4 linked regions of the Homo sapiens genome follow. The protein of the gene in region 1 binds, or shares a complex with, the protein of each later gene. Each region holds a gene or a part of one and is shown on either strand. Other genes may lie near its edges. The genes, in order: MED25, MED26, MED16 and MED7. A codon is read from its position in the direction of its gene.

The links.
Region 2: MED25 (region 1) and MED26 share a complex: the UniProt entries of both Homo sapiens proteins name them as parts of the mediator complex.
Region 3: the proteins of MED25 (region 1) and MED16 are in contact, whole or in part, in a cryo-EM structure (PDB 7EMF), measured with the Homo sapiens proteins. Residues at the interface, in NP_112235.2 of Homo sapiens: Ala26 (codon at 4,879), Asn27 (codon at 4,882), Gly29 (codon at 4,888), Pro30 (codon at 4,891), Tyr31 (codon at 4,894), Val74 (codon at 5,673), Asp75 (codon at 5,676), Cys76 (codon at 5,679), Ala77 (codon at 5,682), Pro78 (codon at 5,685), Glu79 (codon at 5,688), Val82 (codon at 5,697), Cys84 (codon at 5,703), His85 (codon at 5,706), Pro87 (codon at 5,712), Lys102, Phe103, Met104, Gly105, Gly106, Gly107, Gly108, Glu109, Thr120, Gln123, Leu124, Asp127, Phe128, Tyr151, Leu152; in NP_005472.2 of Homo sapiens: Cys41 (codon at 7,150), Arg42 (codon at 7,153), Ser92, Ser94, His113, Arg161, Lys163, Phe171, Gly172, Gly173, Lys174, Pro195, Gly485, Tyr486, Ala516, Ala517, Gln520, Val521, Thr524, Arg525, Ile554, Ala555, Ser558, Lys561, Ser562, Leu563, Leu564, Arg565, Pro566, His567.
Region 4: MED25 (region 1) and MED7 share a complex: the UniProt entries of both Homo sapiens proteins name them as parts of the mediator complex.

The regions. Positions count from the first base shown.
Region 1 is NC_000019.10:49,813,539-49,821,403, forward strand, and holds the start of MED25 (mediator of RNA polymerase II transcription subunit 25), read left to right. Parts: upstream 1-4,750; 5' UTR 4,751-4,803; coding exon 4,804-4,937; intron 4,938-5,032; coding exon 5,033-5,078; intron 5,079-5,633; coding exon 5,634-5,758; intron 5,759-7,865. UniProt on the Homo sapiens protein: Component of the Mediator complex, a coactivator involved in the regulated transcription of nearly all RNA polymerase II-dependent genes.
Region 2 is NC_000019.10:16,625,193-16,633,097, reverse strand, and holds the start of MED26 (mediator of RNA polymerase II transcription subunit 26), read left to right. Parts: upstream 1-4,893; 5' UTR 4,894-5,154; coding exon 5,155-5,226; intron 5,227-7,905. UniProt on the Homo sapiens protein: Component of the Mediator complex, a coactivator involved in the regulated transcription of nearly all RNA polymerase II-dependent genes.
Region 3 is NC_000019.10:890,084-898,160, reverse strand, and holds the start of MED16 (mediator of RNA polymerase II transcription subunit 16), read left to right. Parts: upstream 1-4,973; 5' UTR 4,974-5,075; intron 5,076-7,011; 5' UTR 7,012-7,029; coding exon 7,030-7,198; intron 7,199-7,916; coding exon 7,917-8,024; intron 8,025-8,077. Other genes in the region: R3HDM4 (R3H domain-containing protein 4), read left to right, coding at 621-724. UniProt on the Homo sapiens protein: Component of the Mediator complex, a coactivator involved in the regulated transcription of nearly all RNA polymerase II-dependent genes.
Region 4 is NC_000005.10:157,139,851-157,147,087, forward strand, and holds the start of MED7 (mediator of RNA polymerase II transcription subunit 7), read right to left. Parts: upstream 3,016-7,237; 5' UTR 2,970-3,015; intron 2,926-2,969; exon of another isoform or gene 2,551-2,925; intron 1-2,550. UniProt on the Homo sapiens protein: Component of the Mediator complex, a coactivator involved in the regulated transcription of nearly all RNA polymerase II-dependent genes.

The sequences.
Region 1 (7,865 bases):
CAAAGCATTGCCTAGCAACCACATTCCCTGTAGGTTTCCAGTATATAGTAGTAAACAATGTGCCCTACTCAAAGATGGCGACCGTGGCGGGGCGTTGCCAAGCAACCACCATTCAGCCTGATATCCATTCCAAGGCTGTAAACAGCTGTGCCCTGCTCAAAGATGGCGGCACGTCGAAGTCCGAGCACCCTCCTTGGGGCGAAATCGAGAAAAACACCATCTCCCCTACAACCTTCGAGGGTGGTTGAGTCCAGCGATCGTTGCCTAGTAACCACTAAAAAAAAGGTTGTTTTTGTTATTAGAAAAAAGAAAACAAGGAAATCCTTTATTTTCCAGAATAATAAAAATAATATCATTTCTGTAATGAATTTATACATGATAGCATACCATGTAAAATGTGAAAAATCCCTTCCCCAATTTTTTTCCTAAAATACAGTTTAACGTAGACTATTCATACGTTTTCACAAAGATGATCAATATACTAACATTTCCACACTTTCTTTTTTGCCATGAAAAAGTATGTCTATTTCATCTTAATAATGTATTTTTATAATCTATTTTATGGATGTGACAAATTGATTTGACCAATTCTGTATTGATGTACATTAGGTTGTTGAACTCCTCCAGACTAGCCAACTAGTGCTGGGACAGCATTTTACTGACTTTTTAAAATGCCCTTATGAATATTTTTATTATTTTACACAGGCAGCATTTACTTGTAATGACAAAAGTATTTATGATTCATTTTTCCCTTCCTCTTCCTTCTTGCAGATCAGCCCATCTTTCTAGCATAATTTTTAATTTTCCTACTTCCTAAAGTACATCTTTTTCTCTTTTTTTTTTTTTTGGGAGAGGGGACAGGGTCTCGTTCTGTCGCCCAAGGTGGAGTGCAGTGGAACCATCTCGGCTAACTGCAACCTCCGCCTCCAGGATTCAAGCGATTCTCCTGCCTCAGCCTCCTGAGTAGCTGGGATTACAGGTGTGCCCCCACCACGTCCAGCTAATTTTTGTAGTTTTTGTGGAGACAGGGTGTCGCCATGTTGCCCAAGCTGGTCTCAAACTCTTTGGCTCAAATGATCCACCCACCTCAGCCTCTCAAAGTGCTGGGACTACAGGCAGGAGCCACCATGCCTGGCCTAGGTACCATTTTAATCTTCCTTCTTGCCTATTGATATTTTTTTTCCTTTCTCTGGATTACTTTTATCTTCCTTACAACTTTATTAAAATGTTAGTTACACAGGCATAAAAGAGGGGGCTGCTCTAGATGAAAAGAAACTTGAGACATAATGTCTAAATATGTGTGTGGTCTTTGTTTGGATCCTGATACAAATAAACCAACTGTAAAAACACATTTTGAGACAATTGGAACGTTTGATTACACACTTACTGTTGGATGATACTAAGAAGTTAATTTTGTTACAGGTAACAATGGCATACTAGTAATGTAAGAAAGTGTTCATAAAATTGGAAAGATGCCTGCCAAGCACACAGGAGTAAAATCATATGATTGTATGGATTTGAAGGCTTCAGCAGGCCAGGCGCGGCGGCTTACGCCTGTAATCCCAGCACTTTGGGAGGCCAAGGTGGGCGGGTCACCTGAGGTCTGGAGTTCGAGACCAGCCTGACCAACATGGAGAAACCCCGGCTCTACTAAAAATACAAAATTAGCTGGGCGTGGTGGCGCATGCCTGTAAACTCAGCTACTCGGGAGGCTGAGGCAGGATAATCGCTTGAACCCAGGAGGTGGAGGCTGCCGTGAGCCGAGACTGTGCCATTGCACTGCAGCCTGGGCAACAAGAACAAAACTCCATCTCAAAAAAAAAAAAAAAAAAAAAGCTTCAGCAAATGAGACTGTCTCAAAAAAAAAAGGGCTTCCGCAGGCTCACTGCCTATAATCCGGGCACTCTAGGAGGCCAAAACGGGTGGATCACCTGAGGTCAGGAGTTTGAGACCAGCCTGGCCAACATGGTAAAACCCTGTCTCTAACAAAAATACAAAAATTTGCCTGCGAGGTGGCACACACCTGTAGTCCCAGCTACTGGGGAGGCAGAGGCAGGAGAATCGGTGGAACCAGGGAGGCAGAGGCTGCAGCGAGCCGACACTGCGCCACTGCACTCCAGTCTGGGCGACAGAGCGAGATTTTGTCAAAAAAAAAATAATAAAATAAAAAAAAATAAAAATAAAAATAAAAGATAAAAGAAAAATAGAAACCCAATAAAAAATAATTTTAAATGATAAAGGTAAAAACCTTTATCATTAGGCTTTCTGTAAGTACTTTTCAATTGGTGATTATTATTATTATTATTACTTTTTTTTTTTTGAGACAGCGCCTCGCTCCGTCCCCCAGGCTGGAGTGCAGTGGCGCGATCTCTGTTCACTGCAAGCTCCGCCTTCCGGGTTCACGCCATTCTCCTGCCTCAGCCTCCGGAGTAGCTGGGACTACAGGCGCCCGCCACCACGCCCCGCTAATTTTTTTTTTTTTTTTTTTGGATTTTCAGTAGAGACGGGGTTTCACCGTGTTAGCAAGGATGGTCTCGATCTCCTGACCTCGTGATCTGCCCGCCTTGGCCTCCCAAAGTGCTGGGATTGCAAGCATGAGCCACTGCGCCCGGCCTGTTTTTTTTGTTTTTTTTGTTTTTTTTTTGAGACAGTCTCGCTCTGTCGCCCAGGCTGGAGTGCAGTGGCGTGATCTCGGCTCACTGCAACCTCTGCCTCCCGGGTTCAAGCGATTCTCCTTGCCTCAGCCTCTCGAGTTGCTGGGATTACAGGTGGGCACCACGACGCCCAGTGATACTGACCTCGTGATGCGCCCGCCTCTACCTCCCAAAGTGCTGGAATTACAGGCATGAGCCATCTCGCCCGGCCGAAGATTATGTTTTAAAATATTTACTGGCCATTCAAAATTTTGTGTGTGTGTTTGTGTGAAACTAGTCAGGTTTCTTTTTATTTATTTATTTTTATTTTTTTTGAGACGGAGTCTAACTCTGCCGCCCAGGCTGGAATGCAGTGGCACAATCTCAGTTGACTGCAACCTCCGCCTCCCGGGTTCAGGAGAATCTCCTGACTCAGCCTCCCAAGTAGCTGGGATTACAGACGCCCACCAGGACGGCTAATTTTTTTATTTTTAGTAGTTAGAAGGAGTTTCACCATGTTGGCCAGGCTGGTCTTGAACCCCTTACCTCGGGTGATCTGCCCGCCTTGGCCTCCCAAAGTGCTGGGATTACAAGCGTGAGCCACGGCGTCCGGCCCTGGTCAGGTTTCTTTCTATTAAAACAAATATAAAGTGGCAGGGCACGATGGCTAACACCTGGGATCGCTTTAGCCGAGGAGTTTGAGACACGCCAGAGCAACACAGTGAGACCCCATCTCTACAAAAAATTTAAAAATTAGCTGGAAGTGGTAGTGCGCGGCTGTGGTCCCAGCTGCTCCACAGGCTGAAGAGTGGCTCCAGTGCGAGTAGAGGCTGCCGTGAGCCAAGATTGGGCCACTGCACTTCAACCTGCACAACAGAAAGAGACCCTGCCTCAAAAAATAAAAATTAAAATTAAAAGATAATAGTAATGAAGTGTTTCTATTTTTCTATATTGTTATTCATCAGTAAGATTTATTTGCGTAGTACATTTCTGTCAACAAACACGCTAGAAAGATTTTCCCAGTTGGCCGTATATTTTTCAACTTGGTTTATACAGTCTTTTGGGAAAAATTAATGAAGACTACGTTTTCTAACTTTGCTGTAGTGCTAAGAAACTCCATGGCAGTCATTAAGATTTTTTCCCTTCAGATAGTTTTCGGGTTTCATTTGTTGCACTTACATTTTTAATCCACCTGGAATGTATTTACGTTCTAAGCCAGTTTCTGGCTCCTCTCCCAGAAAACAACGCTCAGGTGTTGCTTAGCAACCCGCACTTGGTTTGGTGTTCGGCTTCTTTTCGGGGGGGAAAACAACTGCCCTCCCTTCCAAGTTGAGGACGACCTTAAAGCGTCGCCTAGTAACCTCGTTTCCGCCGATGTGATTGGATCCTTCTCGCGTCCCTCCCCTAGTCCCCACGCCCGAAAGAACAGAACCAGAAACTTAATCTAACGGTTACAAAACAAGGGCAGCGGGCCCGGCGCGGTGGCTCACGCCTGTAATCTCAGCACTTTGGGAAGCCAAGGCGGGCGAATCACTTGAGGTCAGGAGTTCGAGAACAGCCTGGCCCACAGGGTGAAACTCTTTCTCTACTAAAAATACAAAAATTAGCGGGGCGTGGTTGCGGGCACCTGTAATCCCAGCTACTCGGGAGGCTGAGGCAGGAGAATCGCTTGAACCCGGGAAGCGGAGGTTGTAGTGAGCCGAGATCGCGCCACTGCACTCCAGCCTGGGCGACAGGGCGAGACTCCCGTTTCGAAAAAACAAACAAACAAAAAACAAAACACAAAAACGAAAACAAGGGCAGCGTACGCGTTGCATAGCAACCAGGTCTCCTGCCCCTCCCTTTGAGACAAGAGGCGGACCTGGACGCCCCGCTCAAAGATGGCGGCTGACTGAGCCGCTTTCAATTTATTTAGCTTTTGACAATAATTCCGTCTAACCCATCAGGCCCCTAGAAGGGCTAACTATGCCCTTTCTGAGTCTTCCACGCGGTGGGGGCGAAGGAGGATGGAGCTAGAACGAAGCCTCAGCGCGTGCCCCGCACAAACATGGCAGCATTCCCAGCAGCCCTAAACCGCCCGACGCGAGCGCGCGCGCGGCGCAGGCGCATTTCTGCTCATTCCGCGGCGTCGGCTGCGGCTGCAGTGGTGGTGGCGGGTACCGCACGGGGTATGGTCCCCGGGTCCGAGGGCCCGGCCCGCGCCGGGAGCGTGGTGGCCGACGTGGTGTTTGTGATTGAGGGTACGGCCAACCTGGGACCCTACTTCGAGGGGCTCCGCAAGCACTACCTGCTCCCGGCCATCGAGTGAGTGCTGTTTCCGCGACTCTAACCCCGCCCTCCCACTTCAGTTTCGCACAGTTTCTTGCCTGACTCCGACCTTTCACTTCCTACCCTCACAGGTATTTTAATGGTGGTCCTCCTGCTGAGACGGACTTCGGGGGAGACGTGAGTCTAGGGACTCCTGGGCCTGAGGGAGGAGGGGCCGGGGGCCTGGACTCCTGGGTCTGAGGGAGGGAGAAAGGGCTGGGCCTGGACTCCTGAGTTTGAGGGAGGAGGGGCTGGGGGTCTGGACTCCTTGTTCTGAGGGAGGAGGGCCTGGGGGCCTGGACTCCTGGGTCTGAGGGTGGAGGCGCTGGGGCCCGGATTCCTGGGTCCGAGGGAGGAGGGAGCTAGGGGCCCAGATCCCTGGGTCTGAGGGAGGAAGGGCTGGGCGTCTGGACTGCTGGGTCTGAGAAAGGAGGAGCTGAGGCCTGGATTCCTGGGTCTGAGGGAGGAGGTGCTGGGGCCTGGGCTCCTGGGTCTGAGGGAGGAGGGGCCGGGGGCCTGGATTCCTGGGTCTGAGGGAGAAGGGGCTGGGGCCGAGATTGCTGGGTCTGAGGAAGGAGGAAGCTGAGGAGTTCCTGGTTCTGGAGGAACGGGAAGCTGGGAGCCCTGATTCCTTCTCTAAGGGAAAAGGGAATTGAGGTCCCAGATTAAAAGTTTTCTGTCCTCCCCTCCCAGTATGGGGGGACCCAGTACAGCCTCGTGGTGTTCAACACAGTGGACTGCGCTCCCGAGTCCTACGTACAATGTCACGCTCCCACCAGCAGCGCCTATGAGTTTGTCACCTGGCTCGATGGCATTAAGTGAGCTTTCCCCCACTTGGGGTGGGTTGCTGGTCCCTGTGAGGGGCCGTGAATGAGTGATGGCTTGGGGTGGTTGGTGTCCCCGTGAGAGGCTGTGAATAAGTGATGGCTTGGGGTGGTTGGTGTCCCCGTGAGGGGCTGTGAATAAGTAATGGCTTGGGGTGGTTGGGGTCCCTGCGAGGGGCCGTGAATGAGCGATGGCTTGGGTTTGAGCTGCAGGAAACATCTCATACATTAAGGGATTGAAAGGACTTTGAGGGTGATTGTGTTTTTGTCAGAAGTCACTTTTGTGGTGGCTTCTGTGTGCTCAGCAATGTTGCCATCAGTTTAGAAGTAGGAAAAACCTTCCCATTCAGGGAGGCCTGGCTGAGCTCCAGCAGCCACCTTGTACTCCCTGTGTGATTGTCCCCTTTCTGTCCTCTCTTTTTCCGTCTACCCCTGTCCTCCTTTTCCAGATGGGTACATTGTAGCCTCAGTGCAGGGGGATGGGTCAGAGCCAGGATAGATCCCTCTGTGGCTTGGGTCAGAATTTTTTTTTTTTTTTTTGAAACAGTGTCTTGCTCTGTCTCCCAGGCTTGTAGTGCAGTGGCACAGTCGTGGCTCACTGCAACCTGTACCTCCTGGGTTGAAGCGATTCTTCTGCCTCAGCCTCCCAAGTAGCTGGGATTACAGGCACACGCCACTATGCCCAGCTAATTTTTTTTTTTTTTTTTGTATTTTTAGTAGAGACAGTTTCACTGTGTTGGCCAGGCTGGTCTCAAACTCCTGACCTCATGTGATCTGCCTGCCTCAGCCTCCCAAAGTGCTGGGATTATAGGGGTGAGCCACTGTTGCGGGATTCAGGACGACAGGAGAGAGCCCTCGGGTTAAAGCAGGAGAATCTTTCATTGAGTGCACTCAGGCCCAAGCCGACTCACGTCCAAAGACGGCCCAGAACAAAGGTAGCACTTGACTTTTATACACACTTCACAAAAGGGGGTGGGCTAGCTTGAAGCAAGCTTACAGTGGCGTGACAGCAGGGATACAGAGGCAGAACAAAAACAGTTAATCAAATTGTTGTAACAGGTTTATAACTCAGGATTGCACATAACCGTTGCTATGCAACCCAGATGTCCCTTATCTAGGTTAGCCTAGGCACGGGCTTATCCCATAACCTTCACTGTGGTGCCCAGGCAGCTCAGGCTTCTCATGACCTTCGCTGTACTTCTTAGATAAAACAGAATACTTGAAGTCATGAGTTACAGAGAACAGGAATCTATAAACTCATTCCATAAAACAAAGGAAAATTTGTTTTTTCTTCTCTCTATGTTGAGGGAGTGCTGGGAGAGTCTCCAAGAGCACTTTAGATAGTATTATCAAGACTTTTCCTGGGTCTGGGCTGTGCCCATTGCTGCCTCTCAGACAAGTCAGCCTAATACATAGAACTTATTTCTCTTTTTAATTTTTTTTCTTTAATTTCCTGCCTCACCACCACGCCTGGCGCTGGATCGGATTTTGATAGTTGACATTGTAGAGTCTGGAGTCAGGCAGACGGGTTAAATCCTGGCTCTTCCAGCACAGAACTAACTCTCAGACCCAGGAGTCTGTCCCCTCTGTGCCTAGTATCTCACTTGTGAAGTGGGGATGTGGATAGTACTTGTATTAGTATTTCATTGTATTACTTATTCTTAGCTGTATAATAGATTACCACCAAATAATGGCTGCATACTGCAAACATTTATTATCTAACGCAGTTTCTGTGAGTCAAGGACACAAGAGTGGCTTGGCTGGATGGTTGGGCTGAGGGTCTCACAAGGCAATAGTCAGGAGGTCGGCAGGATTGCAGCCATCCAGGGGTTTGACTGGTGGTGGGGAATCCGTTCCCAAGGTGGCGAGTCTGTGGCTGTTGGCCACAAGACCTCTCCACAGGGCTGGTTGACTGTCTAACATGGCAACTGGCATTCCTCAGATTGAGGGACCCAATAGAGAGAGCAAAGAGGAAGCCCCAGGCCTCTCTTGTTTTTGAGGAAGGGTCTCACTCTGTCACGCAGGCTGGAGTGCAGTGGCTCAGTCACGGCTCACTGCAGCCTCGACCTCCTGGGCTCAAGCTCAAGCGATCCTCCCATCT
Region 2 (7,905 bases), about 33 Mb from region 1:
CAAGGCTCCCTGTGGCGCCTTCTAATTCATAACCTTCCCATTGTGGGGAACTAATCACAGTTTATTTACGTACTCCCCTATTGCTAGGCACTTACATTGCTTCCAATCTTTCACTCTTACAAATAGTGCTTCAGTGAACTTCCTTGTACATACACATTTGTCTACATCTGATTGCCTCCTTCAGATAAACTTTTAGAAGTTGTGAATTTCAGTACGCTCATATCCACAGGGTCAGAGGGTATGAGCTTATTGAAATGCTCCCAGTTGGCCGGGCATGGTGGCTCACGCCTGTAATCCCAGCACTTTGGGAGGCTGAGGCGGGTGGATCACCTGAAGTCAGGAGTTCCAGAGCAGCCTGACCAACATGACGAAACCGCATCTCTACTAAAAATACAAAAATTAGCTGGGCATGGTGGCATGCAACTGTAATTCCAGCTACTCAGGAGGCTGAGGCACGAGAATCACTTGAACCCAAGAGGTAGAGGTGAGCCCAGATGGCACCATTTCACTCCAGCCTGGGCAACAAAGCGAGACTCTGCCTCAAAAAAAAAAAAAAAAAAAATGTTCACAGTTAATGACTTTTTTCATTCGTTGGTGTCCCAGCCGTGTTGTGTTTGTACAGTGCAATTAAAGTATTGTATTCATGAATTCCCACCCCCCAACCAGGTTCCGGGGCTTGCGTTCAGAACTGGAACCTTTCTGTATCCCCATCCCTACTTGAAGATGGGATTAAAAAATTGAGGTCTTCTACCTATCTTTGACATGTCAAGGTTAGTCAAAACCAATTTAAATTGGTTTCACTTTTAGAGTAAACAAGACTTAGTGCAAAGCCAAGCAGAACTATGAAACTCATCTCTAGGTACTTCTGAGATAACTGATAGGGTTGAATGAGTTCATATATGAGAAAGGGTTTTAAAAATTTCTGCCAGCGGCCGGGTGTGGTGGCTCATGCCTGTAATCCCAGCACTTTGGGAGGCCAAGGCAGGCGGATCATGAAGTCAGGAGTTTGAGACCATCCTGGCCAACATGGTGAAACCCTGTCTCTACTAAAAATACAAAAATTAGCTGGGTGTGGTGGCACCCGCCTGTAGTCCCAGCTACTCGGGAGGCTGAGGCAGGAGAATCGCTTGAACCTGAAAGGCGGAGATTGCAGTGAGCCAAGATCACGCCACTGCACTCCAGACTGGCAACAGAGTGAGACTCTCTCGAAAAAAAAAAAAAAAAAATTCCACCCGCCTGTTAAAGCAAACATAGGGGTCAAAGGAGGGTGGTTGTTTTTGTCACACTGGCTTTTTCTGTTAATCCCTGGAGCCCTCACATCCCTTATTAGGGTAAGTTTAGTAACCCTGTGCTTTAAATGGCCTGTCTCTCAGGGGCTTGCTTCTGACATGTCTGATGAGCGCATTCCTGCTGTTGCTCCTGGCTATTACAAGGTGTCGCTGTGGAAGACTATTCCTGTACAGCTGTGTGAACCTGCCTCGTCACGGCTTCCTCTGCAGTGCTCTTGAATATCCCGGTTCCTGCTTAGGCCACAGCAGTGAGTCCAGGGAGAAGCATCCTTCTACTCCCTCACTGTCCAGGTTGGCTGAAGATGCTCTGCACTTGACCTCCTGACACTAACTTCCTTGCCTTTTCCCATGGCAAGAGCAAGTCATGGACTCTGAACTACTTCCTCTCCCTTTTTTCTATTTATTTTATTTTATTTTATATTTGTGATGGAGTCTCGCTCTGTCACCCAGGCTGGAGTGTGGTGGTGTGATCTTGGCTCACTGCAACCTCTGCCTCCCAGGTTCATGCAATTCTCCTGCCTCTACCTCCCAAGTAGCTGGGAATACAGGTGCCCACCACCATGCCCGGCTAATTTTTGTATTCTTAGTAGAGGTGGGGTTTCACCATGTTGGCCAGGCTGGTCTCTTAACTCCTTACCTCAAATGATCCACCCACCTCGGCCTCCCAAAGTGCTGGGATTATAGATGTGAGCCACTGCACCCAGCCCTTCCTCTCCCTTTCTCTTTGGGGTTCCCTTCACAAACAGGTGAGGCAGCTTTTTCAAGGGCATTCCAAGCACAAAAGACCTTGTTGTACCTAAATACTATAAGGGACCTGTCATTGAGGACGAACCATCACAGCAAGAGGAATTATCTCGTGCCGCATCTTCGCATAACTGACAGGATCCCTGGCAAGGATGTCTCAATGCAGAAAGTTGGCTAAGTGAACTGCAGTATCTACCCTGGACCTAAAAGAACTTGCTAATGTTTTCAAGACTACAATTCAGAGGCTGTCTGATTTAATCTTTGCATTTACAAAAACACCCTTTTACGTACATTAAATGTGGAATAAAACTAAATATCCGTGTGTGTGTTGTGTATCCTGGTGTATATAGTATTATATTTTATGAAGTATTTCATTCATTCCAGAAATAGCTCTCCAGACCCATGGTGTACCAGATCTGTAGAAACTGAAATGCATTCATATGTCTGGGGGTGTGTGTAACGCTACCGTGTATTTGATGAAACTTTTCATTGACTTACTCCACAGATACTATTTTTCTATCTACTGGGGATACCAAAAAGAGCCAGTGCCCTTGAGGAACCAAGTCATGTCAGTGCTTCTTAGTTTTTAAAAAGTGGGTAAGTTGAGTACTTTCCAGATGTTTGTTTATTTTTCAAGACAGTCTTGCTCTGTCACCCAGGTTGGAGTACAGTGGCGTGATCTCAGCTCACTGCAGCCTCTGCCTTCTGGGTTCAAACAATTCTCGTGCCTCAGCCTTCTGAGTAGCTGGGATTACAGGTGTGTGCCACCATGCCCGGCTAATTTTTGTTTTTTCAGTAGAGAAGGGGTTTCACTATTTTGGCCACGCAGGTCTCGAACTCCTGACCGCAAGTGATCTGCCCACCTCGGCTTCCCAAAGTGCTGGGATTACAGGCATGAGCTACCAGGCATGAGCCACCGTGGCTGGCCCCACATTTTGTTTGAGACAGAGTCTGTTGCCCAGGCTGGAGTGCAGTGGTGTGATCTTGGCTCACTGCAACCTCCGCCTCCCGGGTTCAAGCAATTCTTCTGCCTCAGCCCCCTCTAGTAGCCAGGATTACAAGTGCGCGCCAGCATGCCCGGCTAATTTTTGTATTTTTAGTAGAGATGGGGTTTCACCATGTTGGCCAGGCTAGTCTCGAACTCCTGAGCTCAAGTGATCGCCCACCTCCGCCTGCTGAAGTGCTGGGATTACAGGCTTGAGCCACCACGTCCGGCCCAAATGTTTCTTAAAATAACCTGACCCATGCAAAATAAATTGCCTCCTATGTAATACTTTATTAAAAAAAAAAAAAGATACTGTACATCCGAGTTAGAAATTAAGAGAGAGGCAAGACCAGAATATGCCTGAGGAAGGCTTTGCTTATTTTGCTTATCAGAAATGAGAGAATTATCTCCGAATGGGCCAGTTTCCAACTTGGACCATGTACACCATGTACACAATGCACCGCATTCTGGGAGGGGCGAGGTTGGGAGCAGTAAATGACAAGTGTTTTGCCCGTGTTTCTTTTCTCCTCCAAGTGTGATGTAAAACTTTTCACATGTGCAGAAGCACGCAACCATAGCCACGTGCAGAAGCAGCCGTTTTTGCAAATGAAAATATTTCCCAGAAGCACAACAAATACAAGACTAACAGGTGTCGGGCAGCTCCAAGGCACACATGTGGTTCTCATCAGCTGTCTTCCTCCTGTTTTAAATCTAGGTCTTCCTGTAACAGTGGGAAAAAAAAGATTTCTCCCGAGGCCGCCGAGCTTGCCTTTCCATCCCGTCTCACAAGAGCATTTCCAACAGAGCTCCCAGAGAGAGGGGAGCAATTACCAAGGCAATAAACAGGGTGGAGGGAGGAGGGGCGCCCTTAAACTTGACATCTGCGGTTCTGGGCTTAACCCCGAAGTCTAGGTGACCTTGGGCCTCCGTTTCCTCCTCTGTGACGTGTTTGGTTAAGAGAATGAGCATCTCAGTTTTACAGAATCTCAAGGCAGAGGCGGGTAGAAGGGTCTTTCAATCACGGGGTTCTCTGCCGGTGGGGGGGCGGGGGGACTGTGCCCCCACAAGGGACGGCGGCAATGACTGCAGATTGGGGGAGGGGGCGCTTCGGAGGCCAGAGATGCCGCTCAACTTCCGACAGATCGGGGGACCCGCCCCGAAGACAGAGCGATCCCGCCCAAATGCCAGTGGTGCCGAGGTGGAGAAGCCGCCGCGTAGACGCAGATTTGCAACCTCCGGCTTTCCCAGCTACGGCGGGCGGCTTCTGCCAGAGGCGCTTTGCCGCCTCACGTTTTCGCGATCGGGGTCGCGCGTGGCGGTGCAGACCCCCGCCCTGCCACCACACCCATTCCCACACCCTCTGAGGGGCGGGGGGGCCGCGGCGACACCCCCGGACTCCGATGACCCTTCTGCGCGCAGAATCACAACGTGGACGTCTGGTTCCCTCGCCCTCACAAAAAACTCGGCAGCTGCTCAGCCTGCGACTCCCGTCCCCCAGTCACGCGCCGGGAAGGCTCTCCCAGAGGAAGGATTTTCCCGCCGCCCTCCCCGCCCCGAGGTAGCCGCTGCGAGCGTCCGGGTTCAAGGACTCTTTGCGCGCGCGCTTCCGTCAGAAAGCCCCGCCCCGTGACCTGGACGGGGGCCGTTGCCCCGCCCAACCTCCTCCCAACGGCTGCCTAGGCCGGGCGGCTGGGCGGGGCGTCACGGGCGGACGAGTGCGCCTGCGCGCGCTTGCGCGGAGGCGCGGGGCGTGGCACACGGGCAGCCCCGCCCAGGCCTGGCGTCTCCGCCCGCCCCATCTCCCAACCTCCTCAGCGTGGCGCCGACGCTGCGTGCGGCGCGGACTACCCAGAGTACTCCGCGCGGGGGCAGCTCACTGGAGTTTGGTTCTCGAGGCGGCGGCAGCGAGCGGCGGCGGCTCCGGCGGCTCCTCCTCCTCCTTTGGTGGCGGCGGCGGCCCGGGACCGAGACCCGGCCCCGGCTCCCCTCTCCGCCACCCCGCGCGCCCCCAACCCCCCGGCGCCGCGGGGAACATGCGGCTCCGGCTCCCGGAGGCCGGCGAGTGAGTGACCCCCGTCCCCCGCCTCAGCCCGCCCGCCCGCTGGCCCGGCCGCAACCCCCCGCCTCGCCCAGGCAATGACAGCGGCTCCGGCGTCTCCGCAGCAGATCAGGGACCGGCTGCTGCAGGCCATCGACCCCCAGAGCAACGTAAGTACCCGCCGCGCGAGCTGGGACGGAGGCCGCATGGGCCCGGGACCCTCCCCCTCTCCTGTACCCCTCGCCCACCGGGCTTCGGGGGACCCGTCTGGCGCCCACCTCCCCTCGAGGGCCGCTGCCATCCCTGCCTCTCGCTTCTCGGGCCCGGGCCGGGGGCAGGTCGGGCAGCCCGGCAGCGCTCGGTACGTGAGGCCGAGGCTTCCGTGCGGCCTGGGCGGAGGAAGCAGACGGGGGAGCTGAGGCTAGAGTTTTTCCTCCCTTTCTGCTCCAGCTCTACGACCCTCACTGCTCTGGACGAAGCTTCTCTGCCTCGCCCTCCCTCCGGGACCCGAGACCCCCGGGAAGCCCTCCCGGAGCGGGAAGGGGAGGGAGAAGGGCTGTGAAGCAACTGGTGTCCGGGGTATGACTCGGGGAACCTATGTCTCCCATGTCTTGGCCTCCTGGGTGATCAGGGAAGTCCTTCTTCCCCCTCCTCTCGGCTGGCAGCACCTTCCTGGCTTCGGAGAGAACCCCCAGTCTGTTTTGCCCCTGGCCGGGTACCTAGGGTACGTGGAGAGTCTGTCTCCCTTCTGTGACTAGACACGCCTTTGCCAAAACCCTCTTGGGGTCGCTGCCGACGATAGATGATCTCGGGGAGGGTGGGATCCTTCCTGTTGCCTTTCTGGGCCTCAGTACCCATTGCGTCTCTGACCAAGCCAGAGCTCCATTTTTTAGGTAGTGAATTAAAGAGGACTTTTCTCTCCCGTTTACCCAAGAGCTCTGTTTCAGTAGGCTCTTTCCCTCACCTGGGGGTCTCAGCCTGGTGGTTTTTGACCCAGACTGTCGGGGTTAACTCCAGAGTGTCGCTTCCTCGGGTGCCCCTTTGCTGAGGCTACTGTTTGCGGAGGGACCGCCCCCTCCCCTTCCGTGTGTGTGTGTGTGTTGTTGCGGGGGTGGGGGGGTGGGGGGGAAGACTGATCTATTCTCATATTTTCTCCAAGAGTTTCTTGGCAGTAGGGGTCATTCTTCCCGCGGCAGGAGCAGGGCGGTAGGAAGATGCAGTAGCATCCAGGTATGAGGGGAGGCCCTGCTTCCCAGGAAGTGGCCATTGAGATCACTTTTTAATGTGCTGTGAATGGAAGAAAAATATCATCTTTGGCTTGGCCAGGTAACTCAGGTTTCTCTCACCGTAGGGGTTTTTGCTTTCATTTTTACATGAGCTTGGCTGATTACTCTTAGCAATATGCTTCACTCTGATGATGTTTTGGGAATAATTCACATTGGCTTATACAATTTTTGGTTAAGACTGAAGGGTTATGAGTTTTTTCGAAGGCTCTGGTTGCTGTGATATAAGTACTTCTCTTATCCCTGGTATTCAGGTCCCATTAACATTGACTTGATGGTAATTGTCTTTAACAAATGTTATATTGTACATTTTTGTTATGACTTTGGGGGTGGAGTGGGCACAAGCTATATAAAACCTTCTAGAATGTCCTTTTTGCAGTAACTGGTGTCACTGCAATTTTAAGACTGAAATATTAGAGGATAAAACTAGTGACATGAAAAAAATAGCCTTGGTGACTTGTGCATCTTTTGTGGAGCCGGAAGGTAATTTTTTTAATTTCACGCACTCGCTTTCCTTCTGGAGAGTCTGAGAGGTTGCTGAGATATTAGCACTGATCCTTAATGCCACCTCAGAGAGCTTTGGGATCAGGCGGCACTTTGACAGGCGATCACAGTGTTGTAGATTAGGTCACTCCAGTGACCTCACAGTTTCCAGTATTGTATAGGGTTCTAATCTAAAGGGTTCCTTGAGGCAGAAGAAAGGAGGATGGAACAAATCTTAGTTTTGTGTGTCTTAGCACATGCAGAAATGCTATATAGGTCCCTGGTTATGTTAGCTGGCATGGAATTTGCATTTCATACCGCTTATTTTCAGGGACTTTAGTGATGATCTTGGGCAGAGTCCTACTAACATGGGGTGGATGGATTTGGGAAGTTATCTTCTTGACTATGAACAATGAGGAAAGTGCCTCCTTTGTGATTGACCCTCTGAGCGCTGTTATGGGCCATTTGACAGGACCGTTTGCTTTGAGCAAACACCATGCAGAAACACAGAGCCGCGGTGGACAGGATTGCTGGCGGAGGTGATGGTGAGAGCCGGGCATGTCAGTGCGTCTGCAGTTTCTCTTGGATCAATGTGGGCTCAGGTGAGAGCAGGTGGCTCCAGCACAGGTGCTGCCGGCGTGCCGCTCTCTCCTCTCTGCCCTGCCCAATGATGAACTCCACTACTGGATATTTAGTTGACACATATTTAAGATGCTCATGAAAAAAAAAAAAACGGGGACAGTGTTGAAGAGCCAACACTAAAATTAAACCTCTTCTGAGAGAAGCGGCAGAGAATTGTGTCATGTAATGCTTACCTTTATGGGCATGCAATTATGGTTAACAAACTTAGCTATTGCTTGCAAAATCGGTGTCAGGAACTGACCTAATATCCACAAGTATCTGGAAAGTTAGGGAAGTGACGAAGTCGTGTTTACCAACCATCTCCTTGACAAAGGAATTCTTAGGAGGAAAGTAGTTTCTGTGCTCTCACTTTTAGCCCCTGGAGTATGCATTTGAATTCCTATAGCAGCAGGCTCAGAGTTAATAATTTCTGCCAATTCAGTAATAAAGTAAATCCTCTAC
Region 3 (8,077 bases), about 49 Mb from region 1:
CTTGCCTCAGCCTCCCAAAGTGCTGGCATTACAGGCTTAAGCCACCGCGCCCAGCCCTAGAGACAGGGTTTCACCATGTTGGTCAGGCTGGTCTCGACCTCCTGACCTCAGATGATCCTCCTGCCTTGGCCTCCCAGAGTGCTGGGATTACAGGCATGAGCCACTGCGCCTGGCCAGGTCATTCATTTTTCTGCAGTGAGGGGGAGATGGGGAAGGGGAGGCCGGTGGGAGCTGGACCACTCAGGACCTGGGTGCCTCAGAGCCACCTCTGCAGGGCAGGGAGCCTGAGGGGAGGCCGGACACTCCGCCAGGCAGGCGTGTGAGTGGCCATGCGGCCTCAGGCCCAGTGCGTTTCAGGGTCCCCATCCGCACAGTGGAATGAGTGCCAGCGGGGAGTGAGATGGGCCCGAGGAGAGTGCTCCTGTAGGGAGCCTTAGGTATTCTTGTGAGCCAGGCTCCCGGACCTGCGGGCTTAGGGCCAGCCAGGCCGCAGTGACCAGCACACACCAGCTGGCGGTGACCTCCCTGGGAAGAAGCGAGGGTGGTGCAGGTCCGAGGCACCTCTACCTGCCGCGGCTCCCAAATTCCTCCCGTTCTTGCCCCGCTGGTCCCGTCTGCAGGTGCTGACCTGGAGGGGAAGCGGCAGATGAAGGTCAGTAATCGGCACCTGGATTTCCTGCCGCCGGGGCTGCTCCTGTCCGCCTACCTGGAGCAGCACAGCTGATGGCGGCCCCGCGGAGACCCCGCTGCCACCTCGCCCAGCCATCAAGCCCTCCGATACCTTCGGCTAAAATATCTTTCATATTTTTAGAATTTGTCCTCGGAAACCTTTTTCGCTTGGGGTGGTCTCTCTCACTCTGCCCCCTCCTCACGCAGCTCTTGGCAGTCAACAGACGCTGGCGGCTGGGGCTGCCCATGCCATCCCAGCTCCAAGCTTCCCACTCCGGGACTTGTGTTTGGGTGGGGAGACCTGACCTGGGCATGTTCCTGTTTCTTCATCGTTGAGCTTTTCTGGCCCGGTCTGAAGCTCAAGTGAGGAGGGGGAGGCTGGGTTTTTATCACTTTTAATGAATTTGGTGTGATTTGTTGTAGATTTTTAAATTTCCCTTTTGGAGAGAAAAACCAAAAAAACTCGCCCCACTGGTAAAACATGGGTCTTGGTCCCAGCCCCTGCTCAGCCCCTCCCAGTTTTTAGCTTGAATGAGGGTGGGGTCTCTGGGACCCTGCCCCTCATGCCAGAAGCATCTTGTGTTGTATATGTGTGCGCGCGTGTGCCCTGAGACCCAGGACAGAAGCCACGGTCCTAAGAGCCGGTTTTATCCTCGTCATTCTGCGTGTCCTCCCCCACGCCACCTGTGTCGGGGCTCAGGGTCTCCTGCTTTATATGAGCCCCCTTCCTTTCCTCCCCTCCTTTATGCTGGGGGTCCAGGACTTCCAGCCAGAAGCCTCTGCCCTTGCACTACCTTGTCTGTCACCCCATCCCGTGTCCCCTCGTCCCCCAGCCTGACTCCTGCCTGATAGCTCCTGTGTCCCCATGCTGGTCCTCCTGGCCCAGGCTGCAGGAGCCAGGCTGGGGGGCCTCCGCACCCCCTTGCTGCGTGTGGGTAATTGTGTTTTGGGGGAAAGTGGGGAATTTAATAAATTTCTGGTGCTCTGGCCTCGGGCTATGTGTGTTTTTCTTCGGGGCAGGGCCGGGGGCTTAGTAGGTCCTGGCCACCAAGGGCTGCAGGTGCCCCCCTGGCTCCTCTGCCCTTGGTTGCCTGGATTCAAACCCTGGCTCTGCCACATGCCTGCCGTGTGACCTTGGGTGAGGAGCTTGTAGGAGTGCCTTGGGGCCCCTGTAGACCTTGAGTGAGTGGCTTGTACGAGTGCCTTGGGGCCCCTGTAATGGAGGGTCTCACACAGGGGGCTTGAAACGACAGAAGGCCAGTGCAGTAGCTCATGCCTGTGATCCCAGCACCTTGGGAGGCCAAGGCAGGAGGATCGCTTGAGCCCAGGAGTTTGAAACCAACCAGGGCAACATAGCAAGACCTTGTCTCTACAAAACATGAGAGAAATTAGCAGGGTTGGCTGGGCATGGTGGCTGCTCACACCTGTAATCCCAGCACTTTGGGGATGCCAAAGCGGGTGGATCACAAGGTCAGGAGTTCAAGACCAGCCTGACCAACATGGAGAAACCCCATCTCTACTAAAAATACAAAATTAACCGAGTGTGGTGGTGCATGCCTGTAATGCCAGCTACTCAGGAGGCTGAGGCAGGAGAATTGCTTGAACCCAGGTGGTAGAGGCTGCAGTGAGCTGAGATCGCACCTTTGCACTCCAGCCTGGGCAACAAGAGCAAAACTCTGTCACACACACAAAAATTAGCAGGGTGTGGTGTGCGCCTGTAGTCCCAGCTACTTGGGAGGCTGAGGTGGGAGGATCACTTGAGCCTGCAGTGAGCTGAGACCGTGCCACTGCACTTCAGCCTGGGTATGGAGGAAGACCCTAGGTCAAAGAGAAGCAAAAGGGAAATCTATCCTCTCACAATGCTGGAGGTAGAAGAATGAGGTCATGGTGTCTGCAGGGCAGTGCTCCCTCCAGCGTCTCTAGGGGAGGAGCCTTCCTGCCTTTCCCGGTTTCTGGGGACTTCGTGTGTCCATGGCTTGTGGCCACATTGCTGTGGTCTCATCTCCAAGTGGCCGTTTTCCCTGTGTGTTATGTCTTGTCTTGACATCGTCCTCTCCTCACGTGTCTGTGCCCAAATATCCATCTCTATGATGCCCGTCATTAGGTTAGGCCCATGCTAATCACCTCCTTTTAACCTGATTACCTCTGCAAAGACCCTGTTTCTAAATAAGGTCACATTCTGAGGTAGTGGGAGTTAGGAATTCAACCTCTCTTTTTTTTTTTTTTTTTTTTTTAGACAGGGTCTGGCTCTGTTGCCCTGGCTGGAGTGCAGAGGTACAATCCCAGCTCACTGCAGCCTTGACCTCCCAGACTGAAGTGATCCTCCCACTTTTGCCTCCTGAGTAACTGGGCCTACAGGTGTGCATCACCCCACCCAGCTATTTTATTTATTTATTTATTTATTTTGAGACAGAGTCTTGCTCTGTCCCCCAGGCTGGAGTGCAGTGGCGCGATCTCAGCTCACTGCAACCTCCACCTCTTGGGTTCAAGTGATTCTCCTGCCTCAACCTCTAGAGTAGCTAGGACTACAGGCATGTGTCACCATGCCCAGCTAATATTTTTGTATTTTTAGTAGAGATGTGGTTTCAACATGTTGGCCAGGCTAGTCTCGAACTCCTGTTCTCAGGTGATCTGCGTGCCTCAGCCTCCCAAAGTTCAGGGATTACAGGCCTGAACCACCTTGCCCAGCGCCCCTCCCTCCCCAACCCTGCTAATTTTTAATTTTTTTTTGTAGAGACGGGGTCTGGCTATGTTTCCCAGGCTGGTCTCAAACTCAAGCTGTCCTCAGACCTTGGCCTCCCAAAGTACTGGGATTACAGGTGTGTGCCACCACACCCGGGCCGCTAAGAACGTTAAATCCCTACCTGCTGCCTGGGAATGGGGATTTTCTGTAAGGTCACTGCGTGGCCCTCTTGGAGAACTGAACCCTGATCCAGAAAAAACACTCTGATATTTGGGCCATTGTTAACCTGTAATTTTAGAACAGTTTTATATTTGCAGAATTCTTGCAAAAATCATGCAGTGAGGCCGCGGTGGCTCACGCCTATAATCCCAGCACTTTGGGAGGCCGGGGTGGAAGGAGGGCTTGAGGCCTGGAGTTTGAAATCAGCCTGGGCAACATAGTGAGACCCCATCGCTATTAAAATTTTGAAAAAACAGGCTGGGCGCGGTGGCTCACGCCTGTAATCCCAGCACTTTGGGAGGCTGAGGCAGGCAGATCACCAGGTCAAGAGACTGAGACCATCCTGGCCAACATGGTGAAACTCCGTCTCTACTAAAAATACAAGAATTTGTTGGGCATGGTGGTGCGCGCCTGTAGTCCCAGCTACTCGGGAGGCTGAGGCAGGAGAATCGCTTGAGCCTGGAAGGCGGAGGTTGCAGTGAGCTGAGATCGCGCTACTGCACTCCAGCCTGGGCCACAGAGCGAGACCCTGTCTCAAAAAAAATAAAAATAAAAATAGAAGAGCACCACATCCATTGCATTAAACTGGCTTTTGGAGGAGGAGGTGGGAATAGGGTTGGAAGTAGGAATACTCAACGGGGTCGGTGACTTCGCTTACAGTTTCCCCACTCTTGGACATTAGAAAATGGAAGAAAGGCCGGGCGCGGTGGCTCACACCTGTAATCCCAGTACTCTGGGAGGCCGAGGCGGGCGGATCAGGAGGTCAGTAGATAGAGACCACCCTGGCCAACATGGCGAAACCCCGTCTCTACCAAAATACAAAAATTAGCCGGGCGTGGTGGCGCATGTTTATAATCCCAGCTACTCGGGAGGCTGAGGCAGGAGAATCGCTTCAACCCGGGAGGCGGAGGTTGCAACAAGCTAAGATCGCGCCATTGCATTCCAGCCTGGGCAACAGAGCAAGATTCCGTTTCTGGGAGGGAAAATGGAAAAAAAAAAAAAAATATGGAACGCTTCACGAATTTGCGTGTCATCCTTGCGCAGGGGCCATGCTAATCTTCTCTGTATCGTTCCAATTTTAGTATATGTGCTGCCGAAGCGAGCACGAATATTGAGTTCCACCACCAGCTATTTAAAGCCCCTGGAACAAATGTCTGTACACATAGGCCGACTTCTCTTAAATGACCTAGAGATTTAACCTCTATTTATATTAGCCCAATGTGTAATGCAACTAACGTAGTTATTGACTGGAGTTGAGAAAGTGCTCGTTGTTCTACCAAATATAGCTACGGTGGCTGCTGGGAATTACTGGAAATGGTCGTATGCAAATAGCCCCGGAGGCGGGGCAGAGCCTGAGCCGCACCGCCCTCCCAGAAGTCTTTGGGAGGCGGCCCCACGCCTCAGGCGACTGGTTGTTACCGAGGAAGATGGCGGCGCCAGACCCGAGGCGCTAGGGAAGATCGCACCGCGGACGCCCGCTGAGCTTGGCGCACGGGCCGACCAGGTGAGTGCGGGGCTGCGGGGGCCCGGCGAGGGCGGACGGACCCCTGACCGTGTCCACGGACCCGAGGGAACGCGGCGCAGCCGTGGCGGGGCCTGCGGGGTCGGGGGCGTGGCCGGGAGCAAAGGCTGCTGGGTAGGCGGCCTGGGGCGCGGGGCGCGGGGCGCGGGGCGCGGGGCGCGGGGCGCGGGGCGCGGGGCGCGGGGCTCGGGGCTCAGGGTTTGCGGCGGAAACCTGGGGGAGGCCTGAGGCCCGCGGGGCTGGGTTCGGGGCGGGGCCTAAGGAGAGTTTGGGGCGAGGCTGAAGGCGCTTGGTGGGACTTCGGGGGCGGGGCCTGGAGTGGGTTTGGGGTCGCCGGGGTGGAGCCTGGGGACTGGGGGGCTGTAGAGGCAGGGCCTGGAGACTGCGGGGTTATCGGTGCGGGGCCTGGAGAGGGAATAGGGTCCCTAGGGTGGAGACTGGGGACTGCGGAGTTATAGGGGTCTGGAGAGGGTAGGGGGTCCCTGGGATGGACCCTGGAGATTGGGGGTTATAGGGGCGGGGCCTGAAGAGGCTATGGGGTCCCTGGGATGAAGCCTCGTATTTGGGGGCAATAGGGGAAGGGCCTGGAGAGTACGTGGGGTCCCCGGGGTGGAGTCTGGGGACTGGGGAGTTTTAGGGGTTGGGCCTGGAGAGCTAAGGGCGTTGGAGGCTGGACCTGGAGAGTACATGGGACCCCTACGGTGAAGCCTGAGAATTTAGGGTGAGGCCGTGGGCTCAAGGGGTGAAATGAAGTGTGGGAAGCAAAGGGGGTCAGGGGTGGGGCTGAAAGACTTTTAGAGGCTTGTGGCGGAGCCTTGGGGGTCTGGGGCAGGCCCTGAAGAAGTAGGGAGCCGGGGTTAGGGTTTGAGGAGAACCTGGTTGCGGGTGATTCCAGGCTCCCTGGGCTTTTGCCTTTGCGAAGCGAAACAGCCCGTCTGGATGCCAGGCGCTTAGAAAGCCTCGAGGAGGTGCCCCCTCTGTTCCCTGTGACACTCAGCCCCCGCCTCGGCCACAGGTGTTCCCCAACACACTCAGCCCCGCCTCGGCCACAGGTGTTCCCCGTCACACTCAGCCCCGCCTCGGCCACAGGTGTTCCCCGTCACACTCAGCCCCCGGCTCGGCCACAGGTGTTCCCCATCACACTCAGCCCCGCCTCGGCCACAGGTGTTCCCCGTCACACTCAGCCCCCGCCTCGGCCACAGGTGTTCCCCGTCACACTCAGCCCCGCCTCGGCCACAGGTGTTCCCCGTCACACTCAGCCCCGCCTCGGCCACAGGTGTTCCCCGTCACACTCAGCCCCCGCCTCGGCCACAGGTGTTCCCTGTCAGTCAGCCCCGCCTCGGCCACAGGTGTTCCCCGTCACACTCAGCCCCGCCTCGGCCACAGGTGTTCCCCGTCACACTCAGCCCCCGCCTCGGCCACAGGTGTTCCCTGTCACTCAGCCCCGCCTCGGCCACAGGTGTTCCCTGTCACTCAGCCCCGCCTCGGCTACAGGGAGCCGCCCCACCGCTTGCCTGTCTGCGGGCTCTTCCTTCGGGAGAGAGCTAGTGTCCACTTGCTGCCCCCATCATCACTCACCTGGGCCAGCGCAGACCCTCCGCTGCGTCTCCCGGCTGTGCCCTTGGCCCCCATGGTCTGTTCCCTAGACAGCCAGAGGGGTCCTGGTGAAACCCAAATAGGTCCCAGCCCTCCCGGGCTCCCACCTTACTGAGAGTAGAAGCCCACAGGCCCAGGACTGGCCCTGACCTCTCCATGTTCCCCCTCGGCCCCAGCCCCAGGCTCTGTCTGGCCTCCGGGCCTTTGCATCGGCTGTTCCCTCTACCACGGGCCTCCATTGTTTTCCCACTTCTGGCCTGGCACTCCACATGCCCTGGGTGCTCAGCCAACATAGACGTCCCACCACACCTCCCTCCCGCAGGAGCTGGTGACTGCCCTCATGTGTGATTTGCGGCGGCCAGCGGCAGGTGGGATGATGGACTTGGCCTACGTCTGTGAGTGGGAGAAATGGTCCAAGAGCACCCACTGCCCATCGGTGCCCCTGGCCTGCGCCTGGTCCTGCCGAAATCTCATCGCCTTCACCATGGACCTGCGCAGCGATGACCAGGGTGCGTCCCCCTCCCACCTGCTTCCCCTCCCGGCCGCATGGTGTCCCGCCCTGTTCCCCAGGTGCCCGGCCCACTGCCTTGAAGGGACTCGGTCTCTCAGGCCACCTCTCACTCACCCTGGCCCTCCTCTGTAACTTGTGTGAGAGCCTCAGCCTCCTGGGGGTACAGAGGGTGGATTCAGTGCCCCCCAAACCTGGTGCCAGGAGACATGAGATCGCCCCGTGTGCGGGATCGAATCGGGCTGGAGCGTTGGTTGACGGAGGCTTGTTGGAGACACGTGCCCCAGTTTTCTAGACGGTGTGTGTCACTGGTTTTTGAAAGGTGCGTGGTGGCTGTGCCCGTCTTCTCTCCATTGTTTGAGTAATAGGCACTCATAATACGTGGTCATTAGAGAAAACTAGAAAACCACAGAAAATTGGAATCAAATCGGGGTGCAAAAAAGCCACCTATTATCTGCTGTGGAGAGGCTCCCACTGTTCACATTTCGGAGTCATTTTCTTCTAATCTGGTTTTAAAGACACAGTTGTGGCGCCTCACAGGCCTGCTCTGTTCCTGCGGGGGGACAGCCTGTTCCCTGAGCTGTCGACTCGGCTGACAGCAGTTCTGTGACCTTCCTGGGGTGGGACACACACCGGCTTACCTGGAGCCTGCCTGGAGTCATCGTCATCGTCTGCAGGCTGTGGTGCCAGGCCGTGCTGACCATGCCCCGTCCCCACAGACCTGACCCGCATGATCCACATCCTGGACACGGAGCACCCCTGGGACCTGCACTCGATCCCCTCAGAGCACCACGAGGCCATCACCTGCCTGGAGTGGGACCAGTCAGGTGAGGCGCTGGTCCCACGTGGCCAGGGGTGGCGACCCGGATCCCGGAGCAGG
Region 4 (7,237 bases), on another chromosome or scaffold:
AATAGCAAACACTTACTTGTATCTCTCATAAACACTCTGACAAAATTAACATTGCTAAATCCTAAACACATTATTATCCAAAGTTCCTGAATGAAATGATGATTCAGTTCCATACCCTTTTTGTCACAGTATACTATGCAATTTTATATGGACACATTAACTTTTGTTTGTTTTTTGAGATGGAGTCTTGCTCTGATGTCCAGGCTAGAGTGCAGTGGTGCAATCTCAGATCTCAGCTCACTGCAACCTCCGCCTCCTGGGCTCAAGCAATTCTCCTGCCTCAGCCTCCTAAGTAGATGGGATTACAGGCGTGCACCATGTCTGGCTAATTTTTGTATTTTTAGTAGAGACGGGATTTTGCCATGTTGGCCAGGTTGGTCTCTTTACTCCCCATCTCAGGTGATCCGCCCACCTTGGCCTCCCAAAGTGCTGGGATTACAGGCGTGAGCCACCACGCCTGGCCTGTATGGACACATTAACTTCTCTACAACTATCACAGAAATGTCAAACCCCAGGTTCAAACCCAGTATCTATGGCCATAATAACCTCTACTTATTCTACCTTAAGCCTAGGTATACCATCCAATGAGAAGATCCTTAAGTGCTCCTTTAGATTGGTGTTATCAGAGTTTCAAGATATAACACACTCTAACATCGGGTGGGGCAAGTATCCTACTAGAAGCAATATTATACTTAGAATTCGTGAGGTACTGAGGGCAGCTGTGGCGCAGCCCTGAGTTTCCACTATGCCACAGTGGTGCATAGGATGATGCAGCCTCGCCCTCCTAGGCTCAAGCGATCCTCCCACCTCAACCTCCCAAGCAGCTGGGACTACAGGCATGTCACCAAGCCCGGCTAATTTTTGTATATTTTGTAGAGACAGAGTTTTGCCATGTTACTCAGGCTTGTTTCAAACTCCTGAGCTCAAGCAATCCTCCTGCCTTGGCCTCCCAAAGTGCTGGGATTACAGGCGTGAGCCACCACACCCAGACATTTTAAAACTTTTAACATAAATTCAGATTACAGAAAAAGTGCATGAATACACAAAAAACACTTCATATTCTTCACTCAGATTCTCCAAATGTTAACATTTTCCTTCATTTGCTTTATTGGTTTTTCATTCCTTTACCCCTGAATACTTCAGTGTGTTTTCTCGTGACAAGAATGTTTTCTTCTACCCAAAGCACAATTACCAAAATCAAAGAATTAACAGTGATCTGGTACTTCAAAATACATTTTTTTTTTCCCTGAGACAGTGTCTCGCTCTGTCACCCAGGTTGGAGTGCAGTGGCACGATCTCGGCTCACTGCAAGCTCGGACTCCCGGGTTCACGCCATTCTCCTGCCTCAGCCGCCTGAGTAGCTAGGACTACAGGCGCCCGCCACGACGCCCGGCTAATGTTTTCTATTTTCAGTAGAGACGAGATTTCATCGTGTTAGCCAGGATGGTCTCGATCTCCTGACCTCGTGTTCCACCTGCCTCGACCTCCCAAAGTTCTGGGATTACAGGCGTGAGCCACCGTGCCCGGCAGAAAATACAATTTTTGACAGCTCACGTTTCATCCCACTCAAACCTTTTTAGGTGAGGAGTGCTGCTCTGTACTTTCCTACACGATGTGCATTCCTGTATTGCGGCTGCCATTTTCCTAAGGCCAACTACATGACAGGTACCATTTTTTATGGCCTCTGTAACATAATCTTCATTAACAATTCTATGAATTAAGGTTTTTGGGGTTTTTGTTGTTAGTTTTGTTTTTTGAGACAAGGGCTCAATCTGTCTCCCAGGCTGGAGTGCAGTGGTACCATCAGGGCTCACTGCAACCTCTGCCTCCCGGGTTCAAGGGATTCTCCTGCCTGAGCCTCCTGAGTAGCTGGGGACTACAGGTGCGCACCACCACGCCCAGCTAATTTTTGTATTTCTCGGTAAAGACAGGTTTTCACCATGTTGGCCAGGCTGGTCTGGAACTCCTGACCTCAAGTGATCCGCCCACCTCGGCCTCCCAAAGTGCTGGGATTACAGGCGTGAGCCACCACACGGTCCCACGAATTAAGTTCTATTATCAATTTCATTTTAGAAGTGAGGATCCGAAGTCTCAATGAGGGGAAGTGTTGCCCCAGATCAAAAGGTTAATAAATGGCACAACAGGAATTCTTATCCCAGGTCCCTTTAGCTCCAAAGGGCAAGCTCTCTTATATCCCTAAGCCGAGAAGCATCTAACTGTACAATAAGGACTGGCATATCACAAAAATTATATTTCTTTCTCTACTGTCTCTCTAGATGGAACTTTTCAAAGGTGATGGAGGTCTTATTTTTAATAAAAGCAGAGCCAAGCATCAGAGCTGGTTCTTAACTCAAGATCCAACATCTAGTGTTTGTTCTACTGGGGGAGAAGGAGCTTCACCAGAAGACGACAGACATTCCAGGGTCCCAGCCCCAGAGATTTGATTCATTCTGTCTACTGTGAATGGGCCCTAGAATGTCGCTTTTAAAACCTCTCCAGATGGACCTGACGATTAGGCTTGGGATCTACCGCCCTCGCCTGCCCCCATACCTCAGCTGTTTCATAACTGCTCCCAGAAGAAGGAAGGGCAGGGAGGGCTACTCTCATGTTACAAAGAGCCGGAGAGGGCAAATGACTCGCCCAAGGCCACACAGCTTAGAAAAACAGCGGCGCGGGGACTAGACGCCAGGTCTCCCAACCTCCACTCCGGCTCGGCGTCCCAACACGGAGGAAGCCCCGAGACTGCCACGCTTAGAGCCCCCTCCTCCAGGCTGTCCACCCCGAGGCCTCCGCGCTCTCGGAGAGACCGCACTCTCGGAGAGACTCGGGAGAGAAAGACGAAAGACCGCCTTTGGAGGCCGAACTCAGCCATGCCTCCCCAGTTCCCAGCCCAGCACAGAGGAAGCTGCGGGGTCCGGAAGAAAAAAACGCACACAGGCGGCGGCCCCAAACCGTTGCCGCCCACTTACCTCAGCTCTGGCTTTACACTGGTAGCCGCCTTCCCCTCTGCAGCCGAAACCAACTTCCGGTCTCCTCCGGGAAGAAGCCACCGACTCTGTCCTTGATTGGCTGTAAGAGCTGTCCTTTAACGAAATTCTAGCTCCGCCTCAGACCGATCCCTCGCTGTTGCGCCTACGTATGTTTGACTCCTCCCATCCACCCGTTACTGACTTTTAAAAGTCGTAGCTGAGGGTTCCGTTTCTTCGTTTCTTTTTGAATTAAGGCATAAAATTGAACAAGACACCTTATTGCTTTATTTTTTATAGACCCCTTATTGACCAGAAACAATCTTATGTTTTAATGTTTAACATGCTCTTGTAAGACTTAACGTGAATTTAGAAATTTATGACACGAAAATAACCTCCAAAAGAAACGCTTGCTATTGCGCCTGCGTATATTCCACCCCCTTCCCCATTACCACTCTTTTACTGACTTAGTCGCTGCTGGTAGTTCCATTCCTTTTGTCCTTTTTTAATTTAACGCATACAATTAAGACGTCTTACATACAAATTCGAAAATATAGACATGCAGGGTTTTTTTGTTGTTTTTTTCTTTGAGACGGAGTCTTTCTCTTTCGCCCAGGCTGGACTGCAGTGGCGCGATTTCGGCTCGCTGCAACTTCAGTCTCCGGGATTCAAGCGATTCTCGTGCCTCAGCCTCCCGAATAGTTGGGGTTTCACCTATTTTTTTTTCTTTTTTTTGTATTTTTGGTAGAGACAGGGTTTCACCGTGTTGGCGAGGCTCATCTCGAGCTCTTGATATGAAGTGATCCGCCCGCCTCGGCCACCCAAAGTGCTGGGATTGTAGGCGTGAACCACCACTTCCGGACTCCCCCATTTTAAATCCCTCGCACGTATCAATTTATTTCCTGAAGAAATCCATCTACGTTGAGCATAACCCAATCCAGCTTTTCTCCTCACCGCTGACCCCAATGTATCCTGCACCAGTGACTTCCAATGGTCGTTCCCAGTCCTCATTTTACTCCATCTGTCAGCAGCATTTGGCACATTTGATTAATGGATTGCCCCAGGACTCAGTTCTCCAACCACTTCTCAGTCAGATATCAGCTGGATGATTACATGCAGGCCCTGGAACACCGTTTCCTCTGCACTTCAGACCCTCATATCCAGTGGTGACAGACATCTTTCCCCAGTTGCACTTTACTCAATTGCAAATGTTCAATCGAAGGAATCACCTTTTTCTCCTTTCTCACATACCCCACCGAAACTACCATACCAGCCTTTTGCATTAGATCTATTTAAAAATAAGTAAATAAAGTTCCAAATATGACTGACCACCGTTCCCACTGCTATGGTCCTATGCCATGCCACCATTATCTCTCACCTGGACTTCTTTGATTTTTTGTCCTCCCTTAGTCTATTTACCACACCTTCTTAAAATATAAGACCGGTCTTATCACTCCTCTATTCAAAATCCTCCAAGGCTTTCTATGACTTTTAGAATAAAATCTGACATCCTTCCCCTGGCCTATATCACAGGCCCTACAAAATTGCCAAGTACATCCCGGCCTTGGGGCCAATGCATTTGCCTGGAACTCTTTGCACAGATATTGACACGTCTCATTTCCTTCTTTCCTTTTTTTTTTTTTTTTTTTTTTTTTTTTTTTTGAGACGAAGTCTTGCTCTGTCACCCAGGCTGGAGTGCAGTGGCCCAATCTCGGCTCACTGCAAGCTCCACCTCCCAGGTTCACGCCATTCTCCTGCCTCAGCCTCCCCAGCAGCTGGGACTAGAGGCACACGCCATCACGCCCAGCTAATTTTTTTGTATTTTTAGTAGAGACGGGGTTTCACCGTGTTAGCCAGGATGGTCTGAATCTCCTGACCTCGTGATCCGCCCGCCTCGGCCTCCCAAAGTGCTGGGATTATAGGCGTGAGCCACCGCGCCCGGCTTCATTTCCTCAATTCATTCAGGTTTCTGGTCAAATGTGACTTCAAAGAGTTCTTCTGGGGTTACACTACTCTATGCAAAATAGCGCATCCCTAATCTTTCTCTTGGGAGATGCCCCTGAAACCCTTACTATGTATTATCTTTTTTTCATAGAACCTCTCATCATCTGAAATCATCTTACATAGTATATTTATGTATTTTATTGCCTTTCTTATCCATCAAAAATATCAGGTTTATGAGCATGGGACCTTTGTTTCATTTACTGCTGTTGTGTTTGAACCTACATACAACGGTGCCTGAAATTGGCAAATACTCAATAAGTGTTTATTGAATAAGAAACAAAATGAATACAATCATCACTTTCAAATAAATTCATAGCGTGGCTTTGGTGGTTATACCACAGTCTCTTTAGCCAGATCCTCATTGTGTTAAATTATTTTTCTCCAAATTTGATCCAGTGTAACTACACAGGATGATGAGATCCCAGTACATATATGTTTGTGCATGTGTCCAATTTTGTTCTTTGAAATAAATTTCTAGAAATAGAATTACTGGGCCCAAAGGGGCAGTGTCTTAACAGTTAGTAGCAGAATCAAGGCTAGAATCTTGGACTCTTGACTATCAATCTAGTGTTCTTTCCAATAAACTTCAAATGAATAATGGATATGAAGTCCATATCATGAGAAGGGCTAGTGACAATATGATGTGTGTTAAACATTTAATTATATGACTATATTGGCAAAATCTCAATGGAAAGCTTATTACTTAAAGATGCCTACTACAGCTTAACAAGGAATATGCTCGTTGAATAAATCTGTATATTGTGTGTCTGTTGTGCCGGCACTGGTCTAGAAGGCTAAAAAGACAGACAAAAGCCAGTGGGGCCTTTGAAAAAAGTGTTCTTTCTAGAAGGTGTTCTAGAGAGACACAGACAAGAAGTATACAAACAAGTAAAAACTTCGAATAGTGGTAAGGGCTATGGGGGAAAGTATAATACAGATTAATGTGATAGTGACGTGGGTTGGGGAATAGCTACTTTACACAGGGTGGTCAGGGTAGCCTCTCACAGAAGGTTAACTTTGGAAACAAAATATGAAGGAGTGAATTCTGCAGAGATCTGGGAGACAGCAAATGCAAAGAGCGTGGGGCTGCCATGATCTTTCTGAATTAGAGAGAGGAAGGCAGCCTGTGTGCTCCATAGCTAGTGAGCAAAGAAAGAAAGAGCAGGGGAGATGAAATGGGCAAAGACACACGGTAACCGACTTCTTGCCTCCCTTAGGATCTTGGCACATTATAAAAAACATCGCTGTCATTTGAACCTAAATTACAAGCAGAAATTTTTAGTTTCCACCCTATTGATTTTTTAAAATGTAGATTTATTGAGGGATACTTTACATAGAATAAAATTAACTCTAGGTGAATAGTTATAAGAGTTTTGATAAATACATACTGACATAAAACCACTACCACCCGGATTAAGATGTAGAATATTTCATCACCCCAAACAACTTTTTTTTATTTCAATTCCTTCCCTTTATCCCCATCCTCTAGTAACCACTGATCTGATCCCTGTTCATATAGTTTTACCTTTTGCAGAATGTCATATAAATGAAATTAGAAAGTATGTAGTTTTTGGTGTCTGGTTCCTTTCACTTAGCATAATACTTTTGAAGTCCATCAATGTTGTTCAATGTATAATACTTTGTTCCTTTTTACAGATAAGGAATATTCCATTGTATGAATATACTGTAATTCATGTATCCATTCACTGGTTAATAGACATTTGGGTTATTTCAGTTTGAGGTGATTCTTAACAAAGATACTATAAACATTCCCATGCAAGTCAATTGTATGGACATATGTTTTCATTTCTTTTGGATAACAACATAGTGACAAAATTGCTGGACATTATAATAATTATATGTTTAACTATATGAGAAACTACCAAGCAGTTTTCTAAAGAGGCTGCTTATTTTTCATTTCTCAGCAATCTATCGGAGGTATAGTTGCCCTCAATCTGCAAATTGGTGTTATCCTTTTAATTTTTACTTTTTGCTATTCTAATATCTGTATAATGATTTTAATTTGCATTTCCTTAGTATTGGGTATCTTTCATGTGTTTACTGGCCATGTATATCTTTTCTTTGGCGAACTGTCTGTTCAAAATTTTTGCCCATTTTTTAAATTGGCATGTTTTCTTACTATTGAATTGTAAGGGTGCACACACACAAATACACACAAGATATAAGTCCTTGATAAGATATGTCTTTTACAAATATTTTCTCCTAGTCTGTGGTTAATCATTTCATTTTTTAAGTGTCTTTCAGCA